Linked DNA regions of Homo sapiens. The protein of the gene in region 1 interacts with the protein of each later gene in a biochemical or structural test. Each region holds a gene or a part of one and is shown in the gene's direction. Other genes may lie near its edges.

Region 1 (3,647 bases):
AGAAAACTCACCATTACAAACCTGTGGATTAATGCTTAACAACCCGGACAGGACCCAGGGCTGCCAGAACATTCTTGCAGTCATATTTGTTGGTCTTTTTCTAGAAACCCCACAAATGTAAATCTCTCTTCAGTTGTTCATTGCCTCCCACCCCCATGGTCCCTCCAGCAGGATGTCTCAGTTCCTACTCTTCTTAGGCCAGCTGTCCCCAACCTTTTTGGTACCTTTGTGGAAGGCAATTTTTCCACAGATGGGGTGGAGGGGATAGTTTTGGGATGAAGCTGTTCCACCTCAGATCATCAGGCATTATTTTCTCATAAGGAGCACGCAACCTTGATCCTTTGCATGCAGTTCACAATAGGGTTCCCACTCCTATGAGAATCTAATGCTGCCGCTAATCTGACAGGAGGCGGAGCTCAGGCCATAATGCTCACTGGCCCACTGCTCCCCTCCTGCTGTGCAGCCCGATTCCTAACAGGCCATGGATGGGTACTGGTCTGCAGCCCAGGGGTTGGGAACACCTGTCTTAGGAGATTGCAGATCTCTGGTAAGAAAATGCCCCAGCTGACCCTATCTCTTGCTGGATCTCATTCCTCCCTAGACTCTATTCTCCTCTCTTCAGCCAGTCCTTCCTCTCTTAGCCAGGTGACTTCATTTCTTGCATCCTCAATGCCTTGTCCCATACTTCCTTCTTCCTTCAAAACATACTTAGACAATAAATGTCCACAAGTCACATCTTACTGGCCCTACTGTCCTTTCATGTTACTATTCAAACTCTCCTTCCTTACTCTCTAAATCTCCCCCAAATGTAATTCATCCACTTTGCCATCAATATCTTTCTATCTATTTTCTATTAAATTAGGCACAGTCCTATTGTTTCTGTAGAATGACTACAGATTAGGGGAAAAGCCTGAGTGTTGGGTGCCTCATGGCTCAAATCCTCAGATCTCAGAGAATAAACACCTCACCAAGATTCATGCTCAGTAGCAATGAGAAATGCTTGAAGAACTCTGGGTTAAATGCATTATACCAGGTGCTTCTCCCTGGTAGCCTCCTCCCCGGCTGGAGACCAAGCGACAAACCTCCACTGTATTCCTTGAGCTCCCGTCACCATCACGCGTGGCAGACTGAGAAAGGTGAAGGCCAACTGCATTCAGCAGGAGATGTGTCCGTTCACCGCCAGTCTCCCACCACCGTTCCCAGCTGGCCTGCATCCTCCTAGTGCCCATCCTGGGGAGTCTTTCAGCACCAAGCTACCTTCTGAGACTTAAGTTTCACTGACAAGCTCCCCTACTCTGCCCCTTTCCCTGCTCCTCAGCTCAAATCTCATCACTCAGGTCCATGTCATCTAACATTAAACCATGCAAATCTATTTTACTGGGAAGAGGGAGGGAGGCTGCAAGTTACAAGTAGAGTGAACCAGAAATCAAGGTCCACAGTCTGACAGGTGCCAGAACACTTCAAGAAACAAACCAGATCTTTTAAATCCCCTCTCTCATGGAAAATTCTGCATTTGTGGATTACACAGATACGATGGAAAAGTTAAAGATTTGGATATATTTCTAGGACAGATAGAAATAAAAACTTAGGGCCAGGCATGGGGGCTCACCCCTGTAATCCCAGCACTTTGGGAGACCAAGGTGGGTGGATCACCTGAGGCCAGGAGTTTGAGACCAGCCTGGCAAACATGGTGAAACTCCATCTCTCCAAAAATATAAAAAATTAGCTGGGAGTGGTGGCAGATGCCTGTAGTCCCAGCTACTCATGAGGCTGAGGCAGGAGAATTGCTTAAACCCAGGAGGGAGAGGTTGTAGTGAGCTGAGATTGTGCCACTACACTCCAGCCTAGGTGACAGAGCAAGACTCCATGAAAGAGAGAGAGAAGAAAGAAAGAAAAGAAAGAAGAAAGAAAGAAAGAAAGAAAGAAAGAAAGAAAGAAAGAAAGAAAGAAAGAAGAAAGAGAGAGAGAGGAAGGAAGGAAAAGGAAAGGAAAGGAAGGAAGGAAAAGGAAAGGAAAGGAAGAAAAAAGGAAGAAAGAAAGAAGAAAGAAAGAGAGAGAGAAAGAAAGAAAAAGAAAGAAAGAGAAAGAAAGAAAGAGAAAGAAAGAAAAGAAAAGAAAGGCTGGTTGGCTTAGGATACGTGCTTAAAAAGAAACATGACTGAAAAGCAGAAGGAACACAGATCAGATATATAAGTTATCATGCAAGGACTTTAAAATAACTATGTTGAATAATTTTTCAACTTTAAGCAGTCATGCTCAACTCATAGCCTTACATTCTCCATTCATAAAATGAGGTTTAAATGGATACTTTGGGGGTTAGTGTAGAGATTAACTCTTTCAAACTCAGCTCCTAACTTGACTGGTGCCAAGTACTGGCCATCCCTCCTTTGGAATTTTGAAAGGCTTTGGAAAGGGACCCTAAGACAATAACCTGTTTCCTTACTCTACTTCTCTGTGCATCCTTTCTCCGCTCTCCTGCCCCTAGCTCTTCCCACTTCTGGTTTGTCCTCACTATTTGTCTTCTCCCTTTCTCCACTTTGAAATTTCATTTCCATCTCAACAGAACAATCACACTTTTCCCGTCTATTCTCAAGGTTACAGGAGAACTGAGTGGTGGTCCGTGGAGTGTTTGGCCTTTCAGAAATGGTCTGAGAACTCACAGTTTGCATATGTCTACATCTTTGAAAACAGTTCTGGTACTCAAACTGAGGCATCAGTAGTAAAGGTTCAAAACATCTGCCCAGGGAGGATTGTTTGAGTCCGGGAATTCGAGGCTGCAGTGAACTATGATCACGCCACTGCACTCCAGCCTGGGTGAGGGGGAGATTCTGTCTCTTAAATTTAAAAAAACAAAAAACAAAAAAAACCTGCCCACTGATAGGAAGGACTGCCTTGGGAGAATCCTAGATGGACTGGAGGCCTGATTGAAGTTGTATGGACATGCAATGCTTTCATGAAGGGCATAAAAGCAAGTTCTCAATAAACAAGGTACATTCAACACAGAGAGTTATATCCTTTTTCCTCCAAAAGACAGAAAAGAATTGGGGTTGAAGGACAAATCCACAGACATAAAGACAACAGGAGATAGGCAAGTACCACCTCAGAAATACCAATAAAATTTTGGAAGTTGGAAAACAGATGAACAATGGAAAATGCTGAGCAGTCTAAACAGAAGCTAAGCCCATAGAGGGGAAAGTCTAAGCCAGAAGCAAGCAGATTCACACTGCAGAACGTCACAATGGCGCAGGCATGAGCAACACCAAAAAGTCGTAGCCAGGAGTAAGGTCTCAGACCAAAAGCAAGAGGACTGATCTGTATGAAGGACAGTGAGACCTCCCATAGTTCCTTCTCCCTCACTGTCCTCCACCCCGGCAGAAGACGAGCTTTACACTTAGCAGGAACTGAGTCAAGAGCTCATAGTAGACTCTTGCATATCAGGCCCAGCTGAGAGTGGGAATGAAGCACTGTACAGAAAGTTGATGGGCTCAGTAAAAGTTTACATATTGAATTTGGGACTGTCTCCCTTCTCATGCTGGGTTCGGGAATGCTGACATTTAAACCCAACCCATATCCCTCCATGGTAGACAGAATGATGGCCCTCCAAAGATGTCCATGTCCTAATCCCTGGAACCTGTGACTAGGTTCCT
Region 2 (3,747 bases), on another chromosome or scaffold:
TCAAGCAGAGAAACTTGCCTTCTCCAACAGATCCTGTCTTCTCCCTACTGGGTCTCCTCTAAGGAGGAGAGCACCTGAGTTCCTCTTGGGTTCACCTGGGTTTATGCTGTCCAAACTGAAACTAGTGCCACAAGTTTCTGATGGCCACAGTCTAATCAGGATCATCTGGATCATTAAAAGTGCACTATAATTAAGAATTTATTATTGGAGCTGTCATTTCAAAACATAACTGGGCAGAACAAAGTTTGACTGTGGTATCTTAAACAATACCAATTGACTTCCGGTTATGAAAGAAGCAGCATCCTGTTCTGCATGCGCAGAGGTGATGCTACTGGTCCAGAGTCAACAAGAAAGTTTTGAGTTATTCTCCTAGGAGAAGAATTGGACTTGCCCAATCCCTCCATGGACTCCTTTCTGGCCTTGGTATCCAAGGGAAGGCCAGGTTGGAAGTAAGGATGTGCTGTTATATGAGAAAACAACAAAAAAGACAGCATCACCTTCTACACTTAACATAACTATTCTCCCTTCACATGCCTGTGAAATAGGTACTACTATTTTTATTTGATAGACAAGGTAACTGAGGGTCAAAAAGCTTGATCATTCCACAGTCAATAAGTACTTACTGAGTGCCTCCCATGTGCAGGTACTGCACTAAGAGCTATGACTCTGCCCAAGGTGACACAGCTGGCAAGTAGCAAAGGGAGCACCCAATCTGTCACCTAATCTCAAGTCTATCCCATTCAATGACTGCCCCTCAGGCTAAGGTCAGTGTTTTGCCACACAACACCACAGGACAACAGAGCCAAAGAGCCTTTGTGGGATCACATGGTCCATCTCTTTAGTTTGCTCTGCTGCAAGGAAAGTCAGTATTGATTACCCTTCTCAGACTGTCTCAAATGCCTGCTGTCTCTGGGGATGAATCAAAGTAGCTTCCCACGTCACATTAGTTACAGCACTGTCTATGGTGTGCAGTCCAGAGCTGGGTGCTGGGGACTCATGCCTCCAGTGGGCAGGACAGAAACACCCCAGCAAAACACACATGAAATCCTGGGAGATAAACTTTTGCAAAGGAGTAACGGGTTCTAAAGTTTTGAGGATTTTTAGAGTAGCAGGACCAGAAGTCAAACAGTAGGATTTAGAAGGTCCTACTCCTTGGATAAAGCACTGAGATCTTCAGTTTGACTCTCTTAGGGCACCTCAAGACTCTGGGACCTATTCCTCAAGCACAGCCCTGTGGTCACCTGGTATGCATCCTGTGCCAGAGGTTTTGGAAACAATGTCTGCCATCCACTCTGACTGGGTGACCCCACTGATGAGCCTGCCACACTGTTGCATCAGAGAAGGGGCCAGTCACACACCAGGCTGCCCATCTCAAGAATGCCAAAACCTTCATGAATGGGCCATCCTGTGCCTGCAATCACAGGGAGGTGGGGCCGACAGCCACGGGTCACGTAACTGAGGCCAAACACAAGAAGCTGGCCTGGATCAATGAGTCAGGGAGAGCTCTATATATAACCTCAGGAGATCAGTGCTCCTCACATTGCCAGCATCTTCTCTCCTCACTCACCCTTCCTGGTGCTTTGGGTAAGTGTGGTTCTACTGACTCTCTCATTTTCCCAGCTGGTCTTGCCCAGGCCTGACTAGATTAGATGGACCAGGGCCTCTTTCCCCTTTGGGAGCTATAGGACCTCTGCCTTCCCAAAAGCACTCACATTTAGAGGGCGGTCAGGAAAGGAGCAGGGGATGAGCTGCTGCCATGCAGATGGTGTTTCTGGTCTTCTGGCCAGAATGTAAACTCCACAAAGACAAGACTATCTCCTGCCTCTCTGGCACCCGCATAGGGGCAGGCATGGTGCCGGGCACAGAAGGACTCTGCAGAGGCTGTCCAAGGCAGCCTGTGCACAGGCTGAGCAGACCTTGTGAACCTGTCAGGAGGAGAGGCTGAGCCACTCTCAAGAGAGTAGGGAGAATGATCCAAAAAAGTTGCAGATGGGAGGGATTTCAGGTGCCACAGAAATCCAATTGCTGTTTTACAGAGTTAGAAGTTCTGAGAGGGAAATACAACTTCCTACTAGTCAAAGTCCCTTCTACCAAACTTGGACTTGAGAAAATCATGGAAGAGATGGCTAATAGCTTCTGGTCGGGGATGTTGGTCCAAAGGACCACCAGGGTCCTTCCCCTGTTTCCAGGCAGGGCCACAGCAGAGCCTGTCTTTTCTAGTGACTAGCCCTTGGTTCATGGCCTAGCTCAGTGGGACAGACCAAGAGTTTGAACTAAGAGCTTCTGCAGAGGATGGAGTGCAACAGCCCTCAATAGAATGAAGTCCGACAAACCTCTCTCTGTTGTGCTGGGAATGGGTAAAATCTCCTATCCTAGGTAGAGGTTTGTGGTAGTTTTCTATTTGCACTCAGAGAATCAGTGTTGAGATTGGAAGAGGCCTGAAAGATGAAGTGTTCAAACCCTTTCATTTAACAGGAAATGAGAAAGAGGCGGGCGTGTGGGTGATCTGCCCTCAAATCACACAACAGTGGTCAGAGGCAGAGCTGGGAGAAAGAATGGGCACTGCTAACTGGGCTGTTTAAAGCATAATGAAGGCTTTCTGCAGGGGAATGAGGAACTCAACTTTTCCAAAAGCAGCAATCATAAGAAACCCCGCTGAGGGCTCTCCGGGCACCTGAAGGAGCCCTGGGAGGATGGCGATGTTGCCTATGGATGCAGCTGCCTCCGTAAGTATCCTCTTGCAGCTGGTCCAGCGATGCTCTCTTCTCCCCTTCCAGGCTCTCCTTCCTTCTCAGACAAGATGTCTTATCAGAAAAAGCAGCCCACCCCTCAGCCCCCAGTGGACTGCGTGAAGACCTCTGGCGGCGGTGGCGGTGGCGGCGGCAGCGGCGGTGGTGGCTGCGGCTTCTTCGGCGGCGGCGGCTCAGGGGGCGGTAGCAGCGGTTCTGGCTGCGGCTACTCCGGCGGCGGTGGCTACTCTGGCGGCGGCTGCGGCGGGGGCTCCTCCGGCGGCGGGGGCGGGGGCGGCATTGGAGGCTGCGGAGGGGGCTCCGGTGGGAGCGTCAAGTACTCCGGAGGCGGCGGCTCCTCCGGCGGGGGCTCTGGCTGTTTCTCCAGCGGTGGGGGCGGCTCCGGCTGCTTCTCCTCCGGTGGCGGCGGCTCCTCCGGGGGCGGCTCCGGCTGCTTCTCCAGCGGTGGGGGCGGCTCCTCCGGGGGCGGCTCCGGCTGCTTCTCCTCCGGCGGCGGCGGCTTCTCGGGCCAGGCGGTCCAGTGCCAGAGCTACGGAGGCGTCTCTAGCGGCGGCTCCTCCGGGGGCGGCTCCGGCTGCTTCTCCAGCGGCGGGGGCGGCGGCTCTGTCTGCGGCTACTCTGGCGGCGGCTCTGGCTGCGGCGGAGGCTCCTCTGGCGGCAGCGGCTCCGGCTACGTCTCCTCGCAGCAGGTCACTCAGACCTCGTGCGCGCCCCAGCCGAGTTACGGAGGGGGGTCGTCCGGCGGCGGCGGCAGCGGCGGAAGCGGCTGCTTCTCCAGCGGCGGGGGCGGCGGGAGCTCCGGCTGCGGCGGCGGCTCCTCCGGGATTGGCAGCGGCTGCATCATCAGTGGCGGGGGCTCCGTCTGCGGAGGTGGTTCCTCTGGAGGCGGCGGCGGCGGCTCCTCCGTGGGTGGCTCCGGGAGTGGCAAGGGCGTCCCGATCTGCCACCAGACCCAGCAGAAGCAGGCGCCTACCTGGCCGTCCAAATAGATCCCCCA

Evidence for each region.
Region 2: the proteins of CSTA (region 1) and LORICRIN form a complex in vitro, tested with the Homo sapiens proteins (one study listed by BioGRID).

Annotation. Positions count from the first base shown.
Region 1 is NC_000003.12:122,331,640-122,335,286, forward strand, and holds part of CSTA (cystatin-A), read left to right. Parts: intron 1-3,647. UniProt on the Homo sapiens protein: This is an intracellular thiol proteinase inhibitor. Has an important role in desmosome-mediated cell-cell adhesion in the lower levels of the epidermis.
Region 2 is NC_000001.11:153,258,150-153,261,896, forward strand, and holds the start of LORICRIN (loricrin), read left to right. Parts: upstream 1-1,537; 5' UTR 1,538-1,584; intron 1,585-2,777; 5' UTR 2,778-2,800; coding exon 2,801-3,739; 3' UTR 3,740-3,747.